2 separate regions of the Homo sapiens genome follow, and region 1 is linked to region 2. Evidence: fine-mapped expression QTL. Tissue or cell type: whole blood. Region 2 holds a variant in brackets; the other region holds the start of a gene. All regions are shown on one strand. Distances are between the middles of the regions.

What was found. PIP is the estimated chance that this variant, and not a neighbour inherited with it, causes the effect.
Region 1: STOML1 starts here. The variant in region 2 is fine-mapped to the expression of STOML1 in whole blood (TOPMed, PIP above 0.99). The same link has a PIP of 0.9 or more in blood mononuclear cells.

The regions. Positions count from the first base shown.
Region 1 is chr15:73,987,102-73,996,175 of GRCh38, forward strand. STOML1 (stomatin like 1) reads right to left here and starts at 5,194. Exons shown (of 7, transcript NM_004809.5): 1 at 4,990-5,194; 2 at 3,250-3,356; 3 at 2,007-2,156; 4 at 1,498-1,701. The coding sequence starts at 5,122. It overlaps PML (PML nuclear body scaffold), which reads left to right and starts at 7,615. Exons shown (of 9, transcript NM_033238.3): 1 at 7,615-7,840. The coding sequence starts at 7,712. RefSeq lists enhancers at 862-2,061, 915-1,104, 1,115-1,174, 1,345-1,404, 4,471-4,600 and 2 more and a silencer at 4,861-5,420.
Region 2 is chr15:73,966,885-73,977,375 of GRCh38, forward strand. No RefSeq gene overlaps it. Among named protein-coding and RNA genes, the nearest start is that of STOML1, 20 kb to the right of the region's middle. RefSeq lists an enhancer at 6,320-6,529. The variant G/A (reference allele first, on the strand shown) is at 4,650.

The DNA of each region.
Region 1 (9,074 bases), 20 kb after region 2:
AGGAGGCAAGGCCTGCTGCAGAGAGCAATGAGCAGTGGTGGGGCTGGAGGAGGGCAGTGAAGGGCTGAGGCAGCTGGCCTGGAGCACTGGCAGGTAAGGAGTGGTAACTGGCTAAGGAAGGTCCAGCAAGTGAGAGGTGGGGACTCTGATTTCTCTAGAAGAAAATCAGGCAAAAAGGGGCATGTGAATAAGTGTACGCCTGAACCAGGGCCTGAGGGCGGTGTGCTGGACCTCCTGAGGTTCTGTCTCAACCACAGGCACAGCTCTCACTCTACCAGGTGCTCACTCAGTCTGGGAAATGGGACTTAAAGGACTCTCACATCCTGGTGTGGAACTGACCTCCCCAAACTGCCTGTCTCACATCAAAACAATGTGCAACAAGACTGAGATCAGTTTTCTCTTCCTAAAGGTGAATTAACACGGGGCATGGTTTTATGAATAAAAGTTGTTATCCACTTGCTATCTGAGTTGTGTTAGATCAAGCACTGGATTGAGGGGCGATGGTGGGATGGAGGCAGGTGGTCTAGCTATGGCTCAGCTCTGCCCTTGACCATAGCTCTCAGAGGCAAGTCAAATTATTTCTTAGCCTTAGCTTCCTCCCTCCAAAATAAAACAGTAGTACCGACTTGCAGCAAAAAATGTCAAGCTCAGAAATGCTGGGCCAGACAAAAGGACTTTGTAAACCATAAACTGCTAAGCACGTAAGAGCTACTGTTAGGATCTCAAATAGTATTTCCTCAGGAATTTCCCCTCGCTGCTTCCAGTGGGACCTCCAGGACTGGCATTTATCCCATTCCCCCGACTGTCCTCTAACCTTGATTCCCCAGGGCAAAGCAGAGCCAAGAGGAATGGGGAGAAATGTCACCTACATTCCCCTGTCAGGACACAAGAGGAAGCACAAGTTGAGTGTGGCTGCAGGGGACACAACTCTGCATGTGTATTTATTTCTACCCCATCTTGTAGCAGAAGAGATTTAGGGCAAACTCCAATATACACATGGAGAAGAGGCAGGAAAAAGATCCAAATGTCCTCATGTTCCTTTGTTCTGTTCCAAACAAGGAAACAAAAATCACAAGCATGCACACGCTGCATGGTGAGCCTGGAATTCCCCAGCAGGTGACTGGGCTGGGAGGGTCCCTGCTCCATCACCCATCTGCCTGCCCCATGAGTCAGGCCCGGAATGAGAGCTGTAGAAGCCAGTGTCATCATGGCAGAGCAGTGAGGGGTAAAAACTAAGGGGCAGACCCCAAGAATGTCTGCCGGGGCCACTTCCTCTTCTCAGGGACAAGTTTGCCCAGGATCGTTATGGTCTACGCCCACCTGCCATTCCTCAACTCATGGCCCCACCCAGGCACTGGCTCTTCAAAGGTGGTTACACTATTGGGACATATGGTAAACTGAGGCCCAGAGTGGTCTGACTCTTTTCTCAAAGTGACCTGGCAGGTGGAGCCAGGCCGGTGCCACCCCTCAAGCTCCGTCTTGTGAGGGGCTGCCTACCAGAAGCTGGTCGCTGATCTTGAGCTTCTCCATCTGGATCTCCCGCAGCGGCCTCTTGAGCAGGGCCTTGGTCATGGCGTTCTGGGCTGTCATGCGTGTGGCTGTGTTCAGGTCTTTCACAGTCATCACCGACAGCACCGGGTCCCAGATGCGAAACTGGACATCGGCTCCCACGGACAGCACAGCCCCGTCCTTAGAGGCCAGCTGTTGGGGGAGGCCATGAGAGAGAGACACTCAAGGGGCTGGGGGTGCAGGGAGGTCAGGCCCACTGGGGCCACCCAGCTTGAACCACCTGCTTGGCAGCTAGCTCCTCAAGGGCAAATGGTGTCACCAAGTATGTAGGGTTAGGTGTATGAAGCAAGGATGTCCTCCTAGCTTCCATCAATTTTCTGGTCTCTTCTTCCCCCTTCCCCCCTCAGATGGTGACTCACAGGCTGAGGTCCTGGCACCACAGTACATTCTGGACAGGCCCCCAGTTCCTCTGTCAAGGCAGCTGAGAAGCCCCTCACCTTGCAGGGAGGGACGTTGAAGGCTCGTGTCCTCAGATCCACCCTCTGAAAGGAGTCAATGAAGGGCAAGAGCAGAACCATGCCAGGTCCCTGGGGGGTGCGGATCCGGCCCAGGCGGAACACAATCATCCGCTCGTAGGTGGGCACAATCTGTCCACAATGGCAAGGGAAAGAGTTGAAAGTGGTCAGCCTAGGCTGGCCAATGCTGTCTGCCTAGGTCCCTTCCTCACTTCTCTCCTCCTCACCTGGGTCACAGTTAGGTATCCCTAGCACTGTTTCCAGATGAGAAAACCAAGGCTCAGGGAAGCTAAGTGACTGCTCAAAAATTGCATAGCCCTAAGTGAAATAGTGAAGATTTGAATGCAGTTCTGAATAACTCCAAAGGCCATGTGTCTTAACTACTGCACTGTATTGACTTGATCCTTAGAGAAACTTTTCATCTCTGTGGTCTGAAGTTAGACATGACTCATACCAGGAAACTGTCTGTCCTTGGATTAGTTAGGAGAAAAGGCTCGGCTGCCCTAACAGCACCCCCGGGGAAAGGGCTTTGTCAACTTTAGGTCCCTGGACCTCCTAGAGAAGTAGTGATGTCCAAATTGAGAAATGAAGGCCCAGAGAGGCAAAGAAACCTGTTCAAGGTCACATGGCATTTGTTTCTGTGGCAGTTTTAGAACTAGGATATAAGGCCATTTAAGGACCCCCTTGCAGACCACACCAAACCCAGAGGTTTTCTAGAGAGGGACTGTTGCCTAGGGCTACACAAAGGGCAAGGCCTCCTTGGGCTTCCACCTTCCCCCAGCTTTCACGTGCGATGCTGAACTATAGCTCCATGGTTCATCCTTTTCCCACTGTACCACCCCTTATGGAAAATGAGGCCTGAATTCCTATTATGCACTACCAGCTGGGCTAAGTTGGGTGTTTTCATTTCTAATTTATTCTAACCCAAAGAGAAGATAATTTGGCAAAGACATCTGCGTGTACCTTAAAGCCAGTGTCCAGATCCCAGGACTTAGGAGTTTGGGACTTGCTTCTACCCCCTACTGGCTCCCAGTATGACTTTAGACAAGCCCAAGCCTTAGTTTCCTCCCCTGACCAATGTGAATGAATGGTTCTTGCCTAGCCCATTACACAAAGGGGTAATAATATTTAGGGAAAGGGGACAGAGGATAGGCAAATTTATTCATCAATGCCAAAGCTCTCAGTGTGGCCCAACCACCCTGGGGGCTGACCCAGCCAGCCTTACCTTCAGGGCAAACCAGCCAGAAATGGGGAAGGTGACCAACAGCAGCAAGAACCCCAGGAAACTGATGAGGCCATGACAGAGGCAGGAGGGCCAGCTCTGGGGTACATCTGCAGGTGAGAGCAGAGGTGGTCAACTGGACCTGCACGACAGCTGCCAAGCGGAGTGAACTTGGGCAAGTGTACCTTACGCCCACCTTCCCCTCGAGAGGCTCCTTCCTTCTCAGGGCTCTCAATCTGGCTCCTTGCCTAATATTCCCGTATCTTTGGGCAGCTGCAAGTTAGGGTCTGTTCCCTCCTCCCATACATCAACACTCATTTGTCCCAAGTCCAACAACCCTCACAAGGCCTTATTCTCTGCTAGGCAACAGCCATTCAATCTCAGAATCCAGTCCGCGTGATGATGCTCTCCTCACTGGACTGAGTAGGGGTCAATCCTCTCGTTTAATTTATATTGCCTACCCATACCTGGCATGGAGCCAGGAGCACCTGGGCATCTGTAAACATGCACTGAATACTGCTGGCAAAACACATTCCTCCTATACCATCAGCCCCAGAAGTGTGCTTTCCAGGAGTCCTTATGAAGATGATGCCTTAGCCTACAGGGATAAATCATAAATAGCTTATCAACGGGAGCCACAGATGAGGAATTAGATTATTATTTTCTATTCCACACCCAACTTTAATGCCTTAATGACCATTAAAAAATGCCTATTTCACGAGATGGCGCCACTGCACTCCAGCCTGGGGGACAGAGCGAGACTCCATCTCAAAAAAACAACAAACAACAAAAAACAAAAACAAAAAAAAACCCTGCCTATTTCAATTCAAGAAAATTGTTAGGGGTCGGGGTCAGGGGCAGGGCTAGAAAGATGAGGCTTATCCAAGCCAAATGTCCTGGCCCCTGGAGATTCAGGAGCCCAAGTTGGGAGCAAAGCCGAGACAGCTCCAGAATCTGGGATGAGGTTATTTGCCGCTTTCCTCCCAACCCTGGACAGGAAGCAGTCGGGAGCCCTGCTCCATTCTTCCAGGAAGCCCTGCCCTCTGGGCTAAGCCCCAGAGCACTGAGGCTCCACTTTGTGCCTGGCTCTGATCCACCAGGCCTCTCAAGAGACTTCTGGATAGGGAGAGCTTTCAGGACAGGAAGGCCAGGGAGGGATCAAATCCAAGGTTAGGCGGTTAGGCTGAACAGCGTGGGATCTGGCCTGTAGGCCAAAGGAGCCACAGAAGACTTTGAGGGCAAGACAGAAGCAGGGCAGATCCAACAGGCAGCTGAGGACCTGTCATTTTGGCCTGCACATCCAGGAGATGCCTAGTTCCCGGGCTTCTAGAGGTGCCCCCTAGGGCGAAAATTCTTCCATTTCCCTGCAGCAGGTGCCTTTAGGGTGCTGGTGGCCTCCTCTGCCTAGACCTCGGTTTCTTCTATGCGAAATAGAAACCTGAAACGTCTTCCCAGGCCTAAAGGGCTGATAAGAGCCGAGGACAAATGTGGTGAGGTGAGGTTTTGGAAGATAGGAGCAACGCTGGCTGGCTCTGGGGCCAAAGCCCCATGACCCTAGGGAGGGCGGATCGGCGCTAGCACCAGGCGCCGGGTCCAGCCCCCTCTCCACATCGTATCCCTTTCTCAGTCCCCCCTCGTAGGGTGCGACGGCACCGGGCCGGCCGACTCCTCGGAGGCAGAGATTCGGGCCTGGGGGTTGCCGGCCGGTCCCCCCCGGCTCCGCCGTGCCAGGCGGCCACTCACCGGCCCCTGTCCCCACGCCGCCCCGCTCCGGGGACAAGCAGCCCTTCTGCGAGCCCAGAAAGCCGAAGCTCGACTGCTGGAAGCGGTCAAAATCACCCAGGGGCAGCGCCCGGTACCCAGACCTGCCGAGCATGGCTTTTGACAGGAGACACGCCCCGCGCCTCCGCGCGGCGCCCTCCCTGGCCAGTGGGCCCTACGCGGCCCCGCCCTCCTGGCTGCTGCTTCCGGCTTCACCCGCGCGGCCACCCGCGGCGGCGCGGGCGCAGGAAGAGGAGGCCGGCCGGGGCCCGCTTCCGCCGTCGCATGGCTCCCCCTGCGCTGGGAGGACCGAACTGCAGCCCAGGGCTACTGGGTGTGATCGGCGTTCCTCGGACCCCGCTGGGGTCATCGCCTCCTCCCCTCTTCTCCTACTCAGCCCTAGAAAAGCTGGAGGGGAAGCTGGGCACGGTGGCTCACTCCTATAATCCATCAATTTGGGAGACTCAGGCAGGAGGATCGCTTGAGGCCAGGAATTCAGGACCATCCTGAGCAACATAGTGAGAGCCCATCTCTACAAAAAATTTTTAAAAATTAGCCTGGCGTGGGATGCCTGCCTGTGGTCCCAGCCACTTGGGAGGCTGAGGCGGGAGGATCTCTTGAGTCCAGGAGTTTGAGGCTGCAGTGAGCTATGATCGTGCCACTGCACTGCAGTCGGAGCGAGAGAGCAAGATCTCATCAGGGTTTACAGGAAGCCAATCTTCTCCAGGATCAAGGACATGCTATATCAGCCTTCTCAGCACTCCTTCTCTCACACTGGAGGCAGGACATGCCATATCTGGACTTTGGGTTTCTCTGGGACATAGTCTGCAAATTATTCCTCTTTGTGAACCCACAGCCCAGCAAGCAGGGACTGGCATAGGGCAGGTCTCAATACTTATTTGTTAAGTAATGGCCTGGCCAGGTCACCGTGATCAAGGTGGAGTAGGAAGGCCTGAACTTTGGCACAAAAAGAAAGAAGTTTCACATGCAGACTTCGGGGAGCATGGGAGTGTAAGGAAGAAGGGGATAGCACAGAGCTACATGAGGGCAGGGGCCCCAGAGCACCACAGAGGTGAGGCCCTCAGTCCTGCAGGTCCAGAAAGAGCATGCCCCTTGATCCAGGTACCTGGAATTAACTTGCCTCTCCAGGGCTTGAGAAAACCTGAATGCAACTCGTGAATTTCCTTTGAGAAGTGTTAACTTCCAACAGGACTTTGGGGTAGTCTGGGAGCAGGCTATCTTCCAAAGCAAGCAAAGAAATGAATAAAGCTTCCCCAGCTCTGCCTCCTCAGCCAATCGCCTCTGGCCTCCGAAGCCCCATCCTGCCATAGCCCACTTCCAGGTCCCTTGTGCAGATGGCTGCCCACCATATTTGGCTTTCATGGACTGATTCTCTAAAGGCCTGGGAGTACTGACCAGGCTGGAGGGAAGGGCAGGCTCCTGAGGCCTTACAGTCCCTAGGAAGTTGCGTATCTGCCCAACCCCTGCTCTCCACCCTGCAGACTGTAAGGTTTACAAGAGCCAGGCCCTATCATCATCCTTTCTAGTCTGTTTCTAAGTTGGAACAGAGTACGGAATGGGTACACAGGAGCCAGCACAGTGGTTGCGATGGTTTAAGTTTGAAGCCGGGGCGCTGACCCAGTGAGGTCACCTGGAACTGTGCCCCTTTCCCCTTACCAGCTGGGAGTCTGACATGCTTTTCCATTGGCGAAGACCTAGCTGGCTCTCCCCTCACCCTCTTCATACCCGCTCTCCAGCTCTCCCCCTCCCTCCTGCCCCCACCACCTCAGATCCACCAGCCTTTCCAGCTGTCACTCAAGGCATCATCCTGCTCCCTCACCTCCAGTCACTGGCTTCCCAGGATCTCTGAATCAAGTCCCTCCTCTGCATCCCACAGCCACTGTCCTAGACCAGGGCACCTGCTCCTAGGTTGTCAGAGTGACTGTCCCATCATGCACAGCTGATCGTGTTGTTCCCTGGTTCCAAATCCTTCAGCAACTTCCCATCACTCACAGAACTGGTTCAATCTCCTCAGCTAGGATCTTGTCCTAGCACACTCCTTGGGTATCATTTCTCATGAATTCCCTCTTAAATCTGAAAATGGCCAAAATTAGTTCCCAAACAGGCTTTTGCAAGAGCTATCTTTTCTGTTTCAAGTGTCCCCCGTACCCCACCACCTACAACCCTAAATCCCTGGTGAATTTCCACTGCTTTTGCAGGTCCCAGCTGTGGGCTCTCCTTTCCAGAATGTCTCCGTTTGCAGGCTTGCTCTTCCATTACATCTACGGCTCTTAGAAAGCAGGGGCTGCGTGTGGCTCATCTTTGTACGCCCAGCTCCCGGCAGGACGTGGCACGAAGCAGTGCCAGTGTGAACGGATGAATGGATCAAAGCCGGGAGCAGGGCTGCCCCCCTGCAGCTCTGCCCTACCTCTCCCGCTTTACCGTAAGTCAGCGGTAGGTCTGCAGCTCTCCGCCTCTACCTCCTCCCCGCTCTGGGCGTGTCTTTAAAACCCACAGTCGGCCTCTCTGCCCCCTAGAACCGCCCCCAGCTTCTGTCTCACTTCCTCTCCAGAGGCGGGCCCTGAGCCGGCACCTCCCCTTTCGGACAGCTCAAGGGACTCAGCCAACTGGCTCACGCCTCCCCTTCAGCTTCTCTTCACGCACTCCAAGATCTAAACCGAGAATCGAAACTAAGCTGGGGTCCATGGAGCCTGCACCCGCCCGATCTCCGAGGCCCCAGCAGGACCCCGCCCGGCCCCAGGAGCCCACCATGCCTCCCCCCGAGACCCCCTCTGAAGGCCGCCAGCCCAGCCCCAGCCCCAGCCCTACAGAGGTACTATTGGGTTAGGGGATGATGGGGTTAAGCTTTGTTGGTTTGCTGTGGTGGGGAGAGGCGGGAAGAGAGGGTCTAACGGAGGATTTGGTCAAGTACCCTAGAGAGTGACACAAAGCGGGAAGTCCAGACACCAGGGTCCTGACCGTCTCGGGTGGGGCAGGGAAGGGAGGGTAGGATAGAGTAGAAAAGAGGACACGGAGGAGTTGGGGCGGCCTCGCTGGGCTGCGGTTTCTCCACTGAGCAGTTGGGCAAGGTGAGAAGGGTCAGTGGCCTCCGGGCCTGGGCCCTTCCGCCCACCCTCGAGCCCTGCCTCAACTTTGCCTCAGATGCAGGACTTCAGATTAGGGAGGATGGAGGTAGTACCCCTGTTGCGCTGGCCTGGAGCCAGGGGCATGTCCCAGGCACGGCAAAACTAAAACCAACTTCCCAGATCCGAGGTGAGAAACTGGCTCAGACTGAAGAGGTATCTTTGCCAAGGCCTCCCAGCTCATGTGGTTTCTGCTTAAGGAAGCCTCCCCAACGAACCCTTCTCTTGCCACACCTTTCCTGCCCACCTCCCACCTCCCCCGACAAAGGAACTACTTGGGTTTCTTGCTCTGCTGCCTTTCAGGCCCTTTTACTCCCCTTCATGAAAGTACAGAGGACACCGTATTACAGTAACTTTTATAAACATTATTACAACTAAGAATAACATTACTTAACAATACTAGGTAACATTTATGAGCACTTCAAATGTGCCAGGTACTGTATTAAGCACTTTGGTTTTTTTTTGTTGTTGTTTGTTTGTTTTGCTTTGTTTTTTGTTTGTTTGTTTATCTGTTTGTTTTTGAGACGGAGTCTCACACTGTCGCCCAGGCTGGAGTGCAATGGTGCGATCTCGGCTCACTGCAACCTCCTCCTTCCGGGTTCACGCCATTCTCCTGCCTCAGCCTCCCGAGTAGCTGGGATTACAGGCCACGCCACCATACCTGGCTATTTTTTATATTTTTAGTAGAGATGGGGTTTCACTATGTTGGCCAGATTGGTCTCTAACTCCTGACCTCGTGATCCACCCACCTCGGCCTCCCAAAGTGCTGGGATTACAGGCATGAGCCACCATGCCCGGCCTGTTTTTGTATTTTACAAAATGTGGTAAAATATACCTAATGGATAAGTTCCTATGTTAACCATTTATAAGTGTACCATTCAGTGGCATTAAGTAGATTCACAATATTGTGTAACCATCACCACC
Region 2 (10,491 bases):
GGTGATGGTACAGTTGAGCACCTCGGTCATTCTGGTGGCTACTCCAGGCTACACATAGGGCAAATTTACATAGAGCTACTTTGTGGTTGGCTGGGTGCGACGGCTCACATCTGTAATTCCAGCACTTTGGGAGGCTGAGGTGGGGGGATGACGAGGTCAGGAGGTCGAGACCAACCTGGCCAACACGGTGAAACCCCGTCTCTACTAAAAATACAAAAATTAGCCGGGTGTGGCAGTGTGTGCCTGTAATCCCAGCTACTCAGGAGGCTGAGGCAGAAGAATTGCTTTAACCCGGGAGGAGGAGGTTGCAGTGAGCCAAGATTGTGCCACTGCACTTCAGCCTGAAAACAGAGTGAGACTCTGTCTCAAAAAAAAAAAAAAAAAAAAGCTTTTTTGTGGTCTTTGTGCTGATACCAAATAAGTGGTATCATTTCCAACACCAATCGATTTTCTGCTTCTGTGATACCAATTGGGTGTTCAATAATTCAATTCTATTCTGATACTAACCTGGAGTTAGTGTCAGACTCCACAGGCTGAAGGGCTCAGTCCCATAAGACTACCCCCATTTCTCCCAGGCGCAGTGGCTCACACCTGTAATCCCAGCACTTTGGGAGGCTGAGGCGGGCGGATCACCTGAGGTCAGGAGTTCGAGACCAGCCTGGCCAACATGGTGAAACCCTGTCTCTACTAAAAATACAAAAATTAGCCAGGCCTGGTGGCGGGCACCTGTAATCCCAGCTACTCGGGAGGCTGAGGCAGAAGAATTGCTTGAACCCAGGAGGTGGAGGTTGCAGTGAGCTGAGGTCACGCCATTGCACTCCAGCCTGGGCAACAAGAGTGAAACTCCATCTCAAAAAAAAAAAAAATGGCTGGGTGTGGTGGCTCATGCCTGTAATCCCAGAACTTTGGGAAGCCGAGGCAGGCGGATCACCTGAGGTCAGGAGTTCGAGTCCAGCCTGGCCAACATGGTGAAACCTCATCTCTACTAAAAGTACAAAAATTAGCCAGGAGTGGTGGCGAGTGCCTGTAATCCCAGCTACTTGGGGGGCTGAGACAGGATAATTGCTTGAACCCAGAGGCGGAGGTTGTGTGAGCCGAGATCGTGCCACTGCACTCCAGCCTGGGTGACAGAGTGAGACTCGATGTCTCCAAAAAAACAAAACAAAACAAAACAAAACTACCCCCATTTCACATGCCAGTCACAAGTACTGGGTCCCCAGGTTACCCACACTTCTGTCCAGCCAACTACAAATTTGGAGGTTCCCGTGACCTCCATTCCTCAGGTTTGATAATTTGCTAGAATGGCTCACAGAACTCAAAAAAACACATTACTTCACCATTACTGGTCTATTGTAAAAGATACAACTCAGGAACAGCCAAGTGAAGAGATGCATAGGACTGGGTATTGTAGGGTGGGTGTGCAGAGCCTCCCTGCCTGCTCTGGGCGTCACCCCTCCAGCATCTCCATGTGTTCCAACCCAGAAGCTCTCCAAACTCCATTGTTTTGGAACTTTATGAAGGTTCCATTACAGAGGCATGATTGATGAAATCATTGGTCATTGGTGACTGAACTCCATCCCTAGCCACTGTCCACTCCCTGGAGGTCAGAGAGTGAGGCTGAAAGTTCCAACTCTCTCATCATCAATCATGGCTTAGTCTTTCTGATCAGCAGCCTGTATCCAGAAACTATTTAGGGTCCTCATTAACATAAGCTCAGGTATGGTTGAAAGGGGTTTGTTATGAATAACAAAACATCACTGTAACTCAGGAAATTTTAGGAGGGTTTTAAAAGATCTGTGCCAAGAACCAGGGACAAAGGCCAACTCTATTTTTCTCACTATATACATGATTTCCCATTTCCTACAGGCACACACAAACACACACACAAATGGGTGCGTGCATAACTGGTTAGATCTGAATAAACTCAATGGATTGTGCCGATGTTCCATTTCTTCGTTTTGATACTGTACTCTGGTTATGTGAGTTGTTCGCATGAGAGGTAGGGAACATGGGACTTCTCTCTACATTCCTTTGTGACCTTCTGTGACCCTACAATTATTTCAAAATTAACAACTTAGAATACAAATAACCAGAGTCCACCTCCCGCCCTGCTACCAGCCTGGTCCACACCACTCTCTTTTCTTGCCTGGATTATTGCAACAGCCGCTTTTTTTTTTTTTTTTTTTTTTTTTTTTTTTTTTTTTTTGAGATGGAGTCTTGGAACAGTTTCTTAATGGGTCTGCTTTTACATACAATCTATTCTCAATAAAGCAGCTTCGTAAGACAGATCCTACCATTTGTAGAAATAAACAAAAACCATTCAGAGCTTGCTGTAGCAAGGTTGTCAGCCAGCATCACTTGCATTTTTGTAGGGACTCAAAATCAGGCTGAGCCTTATTGTCGGTGGGCCGGGGGTAGGGGTGCGGGAAAGGAGGTGGGGGAAGGCTTGGGGTGTGCCCTGATTGGAGGCTATTGGCCTGGAGAAGCTGGGTGGGATAATTTGGAGGGGATTCTGAGATTGGCTGGGGAGGGGTGGGTGCATATTTGGCTTTCTCTTGCTGGCCCTAAGTTGGAAGCTGGGACAAAAATTAGGGAAGCTGCCAGTTTTTAATCAAGTCCTGGCCTTTCGGGGCTGATTGTTAGAGAAGTTATTGTTTTGCTTCCTGGATGGCTACTGGAGATAGTGATCTGGCTTCCTTCATGTCTGACTTATAGCAGACTGGCATCCTGGGCTGTGGATTCCAGATGAGGGGGTTGGTTTCCTGGGCAGCTTGCTGCAGGTTAGGCTCAGAGTTCTAGTTTCCACAGGGTCTGGCCATGGTGCACGTGTATGTTCAGTCCCTCATGTTCCTCTGCTTAGAACCCTGCAGGGGCTCCCACTGAACACAGCCCTTCCTGTGGCCTACCAGGCCCTACATGAGCTGGCCCCATTTCCCCTCTGGCCTGGTCTTCTGCCACTCTCCTCCCTCTCTCCATCCCAGCCACAATGGCCTCCTTGCTGTTCTAGAACATGCCAGGCCCTCTCCCAAGGCATTCATGGCCTTCTAACATACTGTATGCCTTTCTTATTTTTCTCTCTCTCTCTGTTTCTCACTCTCTCTCTCTCTATATATATATATGTATATACGTACGTATATACCTATATGTATATACATATACACACACACACACACACACATATATATATGTGTGTGAGACAGAGACTCACTCTGTTGCCCAGGCTTGGAGTGCAGTGGTGTGGTCCTAGCTCACTGCAGCCTCAAACTCCCGGGCTCAAGCTATCCTCCCACCTCAGCCTCCCAAAGAGCTGGGATTACAAGCAGGAGTCAATGCACCCGGCCTCCTTTCTGATTTTTAATGCTTATTGCTTATGTCTAGCTCTCACAACTAGAATGTAAATTCCACAAGGACAGGGTTCTTGGTGGGTTTGTTCCCTACTATATCCTTGGCACCTAGAACATTGCCTTGCCCAGCACATAGTGAGTGCCCAATAAAAAATGTTTGAGTGAATCAATGAGTTTGTGCGTACATGTGTGCAGATACATTTACTAACATCTACTACTTCTAATTAGGTGCTCAGTGTTTACTAGACACTATGCTAAGTGCTTTCATCTAGTATCTAATTTTTATTCTTCATAGCTTTCCTATGGGTAGGTGACATCAGGCCACTTATCTTTCAGGTAAAGTGGTCTCAGAGGACATGCTGAAAGCCCATGAGCTTCTCAGGGACCTAAATAAATGTTTAAAACCTGAGAAAAGTCTTGGCTCCAAAATGTAAAAACTACAGAATCATCCAAATTAATAAATGTTTAATCAAATGTCTACAAAGTGTCATCGATTGTTAATTTATGTCATTAATTCTCTATTGGCCTCTTTAATTATTAAATGCAGTGTTCATAAGAATTTCATTACTTTTGAAAAGAATTTGTAGACTAGATGTTAACTCTTGGAGCACAGTCATGTATCTGTTAACCACAGGAATACCATCAGAAAAATGTGTCATTAGGTGATTTCAATGTTGTACAAACATCAGAGAGTGTCCTTACACACTCTGTGATGTGTAGCCTGCTACACACTTAGGCTATAAGAGATAGACTATTGCTCCTAGGCTACAAACCTGTACAGCACGTGACTGTACCGAATACTGTAGGCAATTATAATACAATAATAAGTATTTGTGTATCTAAACATAGCTAAACATAGAAAAGGCACAGTAAAAATATCATATAAAATATTTAAAATGTACACCTGTTTAGGGTACTTACCATGAATGGAGCTTGCAGGACTGGAAGTTGCTCTGGGTGAGTCCGTGAGTGAGTGGTGAATGAATGTGGAGGCCTAGGACAATACTGTACACTACTGTAGACTTTAAAGACACTGTCACCTAGGCTACTACACTAAGTTTATTAAAAATATTATTCTTTGGCAGGGCGCGGTGGCTCACGCCTGTAATCCCTGCACTTTGGGAGGCCGAGGTGGGTGAATCACCTGAGGTCAGGGGCTCGAGACCTGCCTGGTCAACATGGTGAAACCCCATCTCTACTAAAAATACAAAAAATTAGCCAGGCATGGTGGTGGGCACCTGTAATCCCAGCTACCAGGGAGACTGAGGCAAGAGAATCACTTGAACCTGAGAGGCGGAGGTTGTA[G/A]TGAGCCGAGATTGTGCCATTGCACTCCAGTCTAGGCAACAAGAGCAAAACTCTGTCTCAAAAAAAAAGTTTTTCTTCAGTAATAAATTAGCCTTAGCTTTCTACAACTTTATGAACTTTAAAATTTTTTTTAAACTTTTTGACTTTTTATAATAACACTTAGCTTAAAACACAAACACATTATGCAGCTATACAAAAATATTTTCTTTTTTTGTATCCTTATTCTATAAACTTTTTATTTTTCAATTATTTTATTTTTACTTTTAAAACCTTTTTGTTAAAAACTAAGACACAAATACACACATTAGCCTAAACCTACATAGGGTCAGGACCATCAATATCACTGTCTTGCACCTCTACACCTTGTCCCACTGGAAGTTCTTCATAGGCAACAACACGCATGGAGCTGTCACCTGCTATTGCAACAATGCTTTTTTTCTTTTTTTTTTTTTGAGACAGAGTCTTACTCTGTCGCCCAGGCTGGAGTGCAGTGGCACGATCTCAGCTCACTGCAGCCTCCACCTCCAAGGTTCAAGGGATCCTCAAGCCTCAGCCTCCCAAGTAGCCGGGAGTACAGGCACGCGCTACCATGCCCAGCGACGGGGTTTCGCCGTATTGGCCAAGCTGGTCTCGAACTCCTGACCTCAGGTGATCCACCTGCCTCGGCCTCCCAAAGTGCTGGGATTACAGGCGTGAGCCACCACGCCCAGCGGACAATGCTTTCTTCTGCAATCTCTCCTAAAGGACCTGCCTGAGGCACTTCTTGAAGAAGTGTCCGTCTTTTCAGAAGTATGTCCATGGTGGTTTGCCAAGTTTGTTTCTTTCTTCCGTCATAGATTTGCATGAGTAATGCTTTGTGTCAGCTAAAATGTTACATCGGCTATGACGTCACTAGGTGATAGGAATTTGTCAGCTCCATTATAATCCTATGGGACCGCCATCGGATACGCAGCCCATCACTGACCTGAGACGTCGTTATTTAGGGTGTGACTGTACTTTAAGAATGCAAATGAATACCCAGGGAGGGCTGAGAACGCGTAGGTAATTACACCATAAATGAATTACTCTTAGCCAAGTAATTTCCAAGGCAAACATACAAAAATCACCTCGTGTTACCTGACAGTGCTATGTTATATTTAACGTAAGAAATCTGTGTATTTTAATATTTAATAAGGTGTGGGAAGGAACTTCCAAAGGTAATAGCATCTGGTCCTAGCAAGGTCTTAAAACGCCGTTTGATTTCAGAATGCCTCATTTTGTAGATTTAATCCAGAATCTGCAGTTTCTGGCGACGCAGTAGTCCGTCTCCCCCAGTTTCTCCTGGCCAAAGCCTCCCACCTTCCTCTCTACCCCCACAACCCTGTCAAGCGCACCTGGACCAGGTACAACAGGGGTGTGTGTGTGAGTGTGAGTGTGTGTGTGAATGCATTTGGGAAAGGCTAGGCAGGGTGAATATTCCCTAGACCCCGCTCTTCACCGTCACTCTACTACAGCAGCTCACTGCCCTGCCCCGCCCCTCCCCGGCCCTGGAAAGCAGCCTCTGGAAAGAGGAAACCAGCTATCTCCCGTGTTGCCACAAGATGGCACCACAAGCTCGGGACTGGCTTTCTTTGCGTTCCCGTCAGAAAAAAACGAGAGCTCTGACCTAGGAGCCGAGGCTCCCAGGGAGACCTCTGGACGCCACTCCCCGGGCTGCTTCTCCTCCTCGGGGTGACTCGGGCCCTCTGGAGTGACCTGCATAGCTTTGTGGTTCGGGCTCCCATGGGGCCCAGAAGCCAGCATGGAGACTTAGGGCTTCTCTTGGGCCACTTTTCTCCTCATACCCAGCATGCAGACCAAGGTTGGGGATGAATTCTGAACGTGGGGCAGAGTCCCTGTCCCCAGAGCAACTCTGAGAGCACCTTGCCCTTCTTCCCAGGGCACAGGCACCAGCCTTCCTCCCCAGCTCAGTCCCTGCTTCTTTCTAAGACAGGTTCTTGCTCTGTCGCCCAGGCTGGAGTGCAGTGGTGCAATTATGGCTCACTGCAGCCTCGACCTCCTCCTGGTGAGAGGTGACAGCGCGCCTGCAGCCCTCGCTCTCGGCGCCTCCTCGGCCTTGGTGCCCACTCTGGCCGCGCTTGAGGAGCCCTTCAGCCCACTGCTGCACTGTGGGAGCCCCTTTCTGGGCTGGCCAAGGCTGGAGCCGGCTCCCTTAGCTTGCGGGGAGGTGTGGAGGGAGAGCCGCGGGCGGGAACCGGGGCTGCGCGCGGCACTTGCTGGCCAGCGCGAGTTCCGGGTGGGCGTGGGCTCCGCGGGCCCCGCACTCGGTGCGGCCGGCCGGCCGGCCCGCAAGCCCCGGGCAGTGAGGGTCTTAGCACCTGGGCCAGCAGCTGCTGTGCTCGATTTCTCGCCAGGCCTTAGCTGCCTTCCCGCGGGGCAGGGCTCAAGACCTGCAGCCCGCCATGCCTGAGCCTCCCCCCAGCTCCGTGGGCTCCTGTGCGGCCCAAGCCTCCGCGATGAGCGCCGCCCCCTGCTCCATGGAGCCCAATCCCATCGACCACCCAAGAACTGAGGAGTGCAGGCACACGGCGCGGGACTGGCAGGCAGTTCCACCTGCAGCCCCCGTGTGGGATCCACTGGGTGAAGCCAGCTGGGCTCCTGAGTCTGTTGGGGACTTGGAGAACCTTTATGTCTAGCTAAGGGATTGTAAATACACCAATCGGCAGTCTGTATCTAGCTCAAGGTTTGTAAACACACCAATCAGCACCCTGTGTCTAGCTCAGGGTTTGTGAATGCACCAATTGACACTCTGTATCTACCTACTCTGCTGGGGACTTGGAGAACTTTTGTGTCTACACTCTGTATCTAACTAATCTAGTGGGGACATGGAGAACTTTCGTGCCTAGCTCAGGGATTGTAAACGCACCAATCAGCACCCTGTCAAAATGGACCAATCAGCTCTCTGTAAAATGGGCCAATCGGCTCTCTGTAAAATGGACCAATCAGCAGGATGTGGGTGGGGCCAGATAAGAGAATAAAAGCAGGCTTGCCCAAGCTGGCAGTGACAACTCGCTGAGGCCCAGTTTACGTTGGCGAAGCTTTGTTCTTTCACTCTTTGCGATAAATCTTGTTGTTGTTCACCGTTTGGGTCCGCGCTGCCTTTATGAGCCGTAACACTCAACCGCGAAAGTCTGTAGCTTCACTCCTGAAGCTAGCGAGACCACGAACCCACCGGGAAGAAGAAAAAACTCCAGACGCACCGCCTTCAGAGCTGTAACACTCACTGGGAAGGTCTGTGGTTTCAGTCCTGAGCCCGTGAGACCACAGACCGACCAGTGGGAAGAAATTCCGCACACATCTGAACATCAAAAGTAACAGACTCTGGATAGGCCGCGTTTAAAAACTATAACACTTACCACGAGCATCCGTGGCTTCATTCTTGAAGTTAGTGAGACCGAGAACCCATTAATTCCCGAAACACACTGGGCGCAAATCTTCCCTTCTCAGTTTTCCAAGTAGCTGGGACTACAGGCGCCAACCACCATGCCTGGCTAATTTTTTTTGTATTTTTAGTAGAGATGGGGTTTCACTGTGTTAACCAAGATGGTCTCAATCTGACCTCGTGATTCACCCGCCTCGGATTCCCAAAGTGCTGGGCTTACAGGTGTGAGCCCGCACACCTGGCCACCAGTTATTTTTCAATTGTTCTGTTTCCCTGTTCTTGCCTTACTAAGAAAGTAATTTTGAAATGACCGATCCGTTCTTTGTTTTTTGTTTCTGGTTTCTTCAGCTTATTCTGTCTGTAAAACCTGCGTCCTCTGCTCCGCTCCATGAAGACGCTCATTCTGTTTTATAGAAGTTAGTAAGTGTGATATATCTATTCTTTGTTTTTGTCTATAGTTCCTGGCTGACAGCCCATATAATCATTGTAATTTCCTAGGAGACTAGAGTGTGATAAGAGTATCTTTCCTTAAAATATTTGGCCTTTCATCCTTTGTTCTTGAAACAGCTCTGGAGCAGCTCCAGAGTAAGCATAAAGGTGAAAGATGGGCCGGGCGGAGTGGCTCACGTTTGTAATCCCGGCACTTTGGGAGGCCAAGGTGGCAGATAACGAGGTCAGGAGTTCGAGACCAGCCTGACCAACATGGTGAAACCCTGTCTCTACTAAAAATACAAAAATTAGGTGGGCATGGTGGTGCATACCTGTAATCCCAGCTGCTCAGGAGGCTGAGGAGGAGAATTGCATGAACTCGGGAGGCAGAGGTTGCAGTGAGCTGAGATCGCCACTGCACTCCAGCCTGGGCAACAGAGCGAAACTCCATCTCAAAAAAAAAAAAAAAAAAGTGAAAGTCGGGCTTGTTGTTTGGAGCCACAACTGAGCTTAACGTTTATAACCACAGGATGGATGGCTGCTTGCCAGGGGATCCAACCGTCTGCTCAGAGCCCCACCCTCCACATTCGGGGAGGAGAGAGGAACCGAAGGTTGATCACCAATGGCCAGTGATGTAATTGATCATGCCTACATAATGAAATCGCCATAAAAACCCGTAACGACTGAGTTCAGGGGTTTCCCAGGAAGGTGGTCTTGTATGGAAGATTTTGTATTCGGGGATGGAAGCTTTTGTATTTGAGGCCCTTCCAGAGTGTGCCCCGTTTATGTCTTCATCTGGCTTTTCATTTGTATCCTTTAAAATATGCTTTATGATAAACTGCTAAACGTAAGCAAATGCTTCCCTGCATTCTGTGAGGTGCTCTAGCAAATTAATCAAACCCAAGAAGAGGGTCATGAGAATCCTGATTTATAGCCAGTTGGCCAGAAGTACAGGTAATACAACCTGGGGCTTGTAATTGGCACTGGAAGTGGGGGACGGTCTTGTGGGACTGGGATCTGACGCTATCTCCAGGTAGATAGTGTTGGAATTGAATTAAGAACACCCAGCTGGTGGCCACTGCAGAACTGGCTCCTTGCTTGATATGGGGGGGTGGGGGAACCCCACACATGTGGTATCAGAAGTGTGTTTCTGGAGTATAGTAGGAGAAATTGAGTTTGTTTTCTGCTCATACACAGAGAAACAAAATCACTAAAGAGCAACAAATTGTATTCTGTTCAGATAATATAGTGGAAGAAATATTCCACTTATAGTAGTACCAAAAAGGATAAAGTACTTAAGAATAAATGTTCAGACGATATAAAGGACATTTCAAAACTTCTAAAGGACACAAAAGACATCAAAACACACCATGTTCAAGGATAGGAAGACTCAATATCATAAAGATTGTCATTTTCTTTTTTTTTTTTTTGAGATGGAGTCTCGCTCTGTTGCTGGGCTGGGTGGAGTGCAGTGACTCAATCTCGGCTCACTGCAACCTCCAACTCCCGGATGCAAGCGATTCTCCTGCCTCAGCCTCTCAAGTAGCTGGGACTACAGGTGCATGCCACCACGCCCAGCTAATTTTCGTATTTTTAGTAAAGACGGAGTTTTACCCATGTTGGCCAGAATGGTCTCAATCTCTTAACCTCGTGATCCACCTGCCTCAGCCTCCCAAAGTGCTGGGATTACAGGCCTGGGCCACCATGCTTGGCCAAAGATTACAATTTTCTATGAGTTACTTGACACATTTAATATAATCCCAATAAAGATACAATATTCTTTTTAAAAAACTACACCAGGTCATTCTAAAGTTCATTGAAAAAACAAACACTAGTCAGATAAAGACACTGACAGTATTCTTTTTAAAAAACTACACCAGGTAATTCTAAAGTTCATTGAAAAAACAAACACTAGTCAGCCATGGTAAGTGGCTTGCATCTGTAGTCCCAGCTACTTGGGAGGCCAAGGTAGGAGGATCACTTGAACCCAGG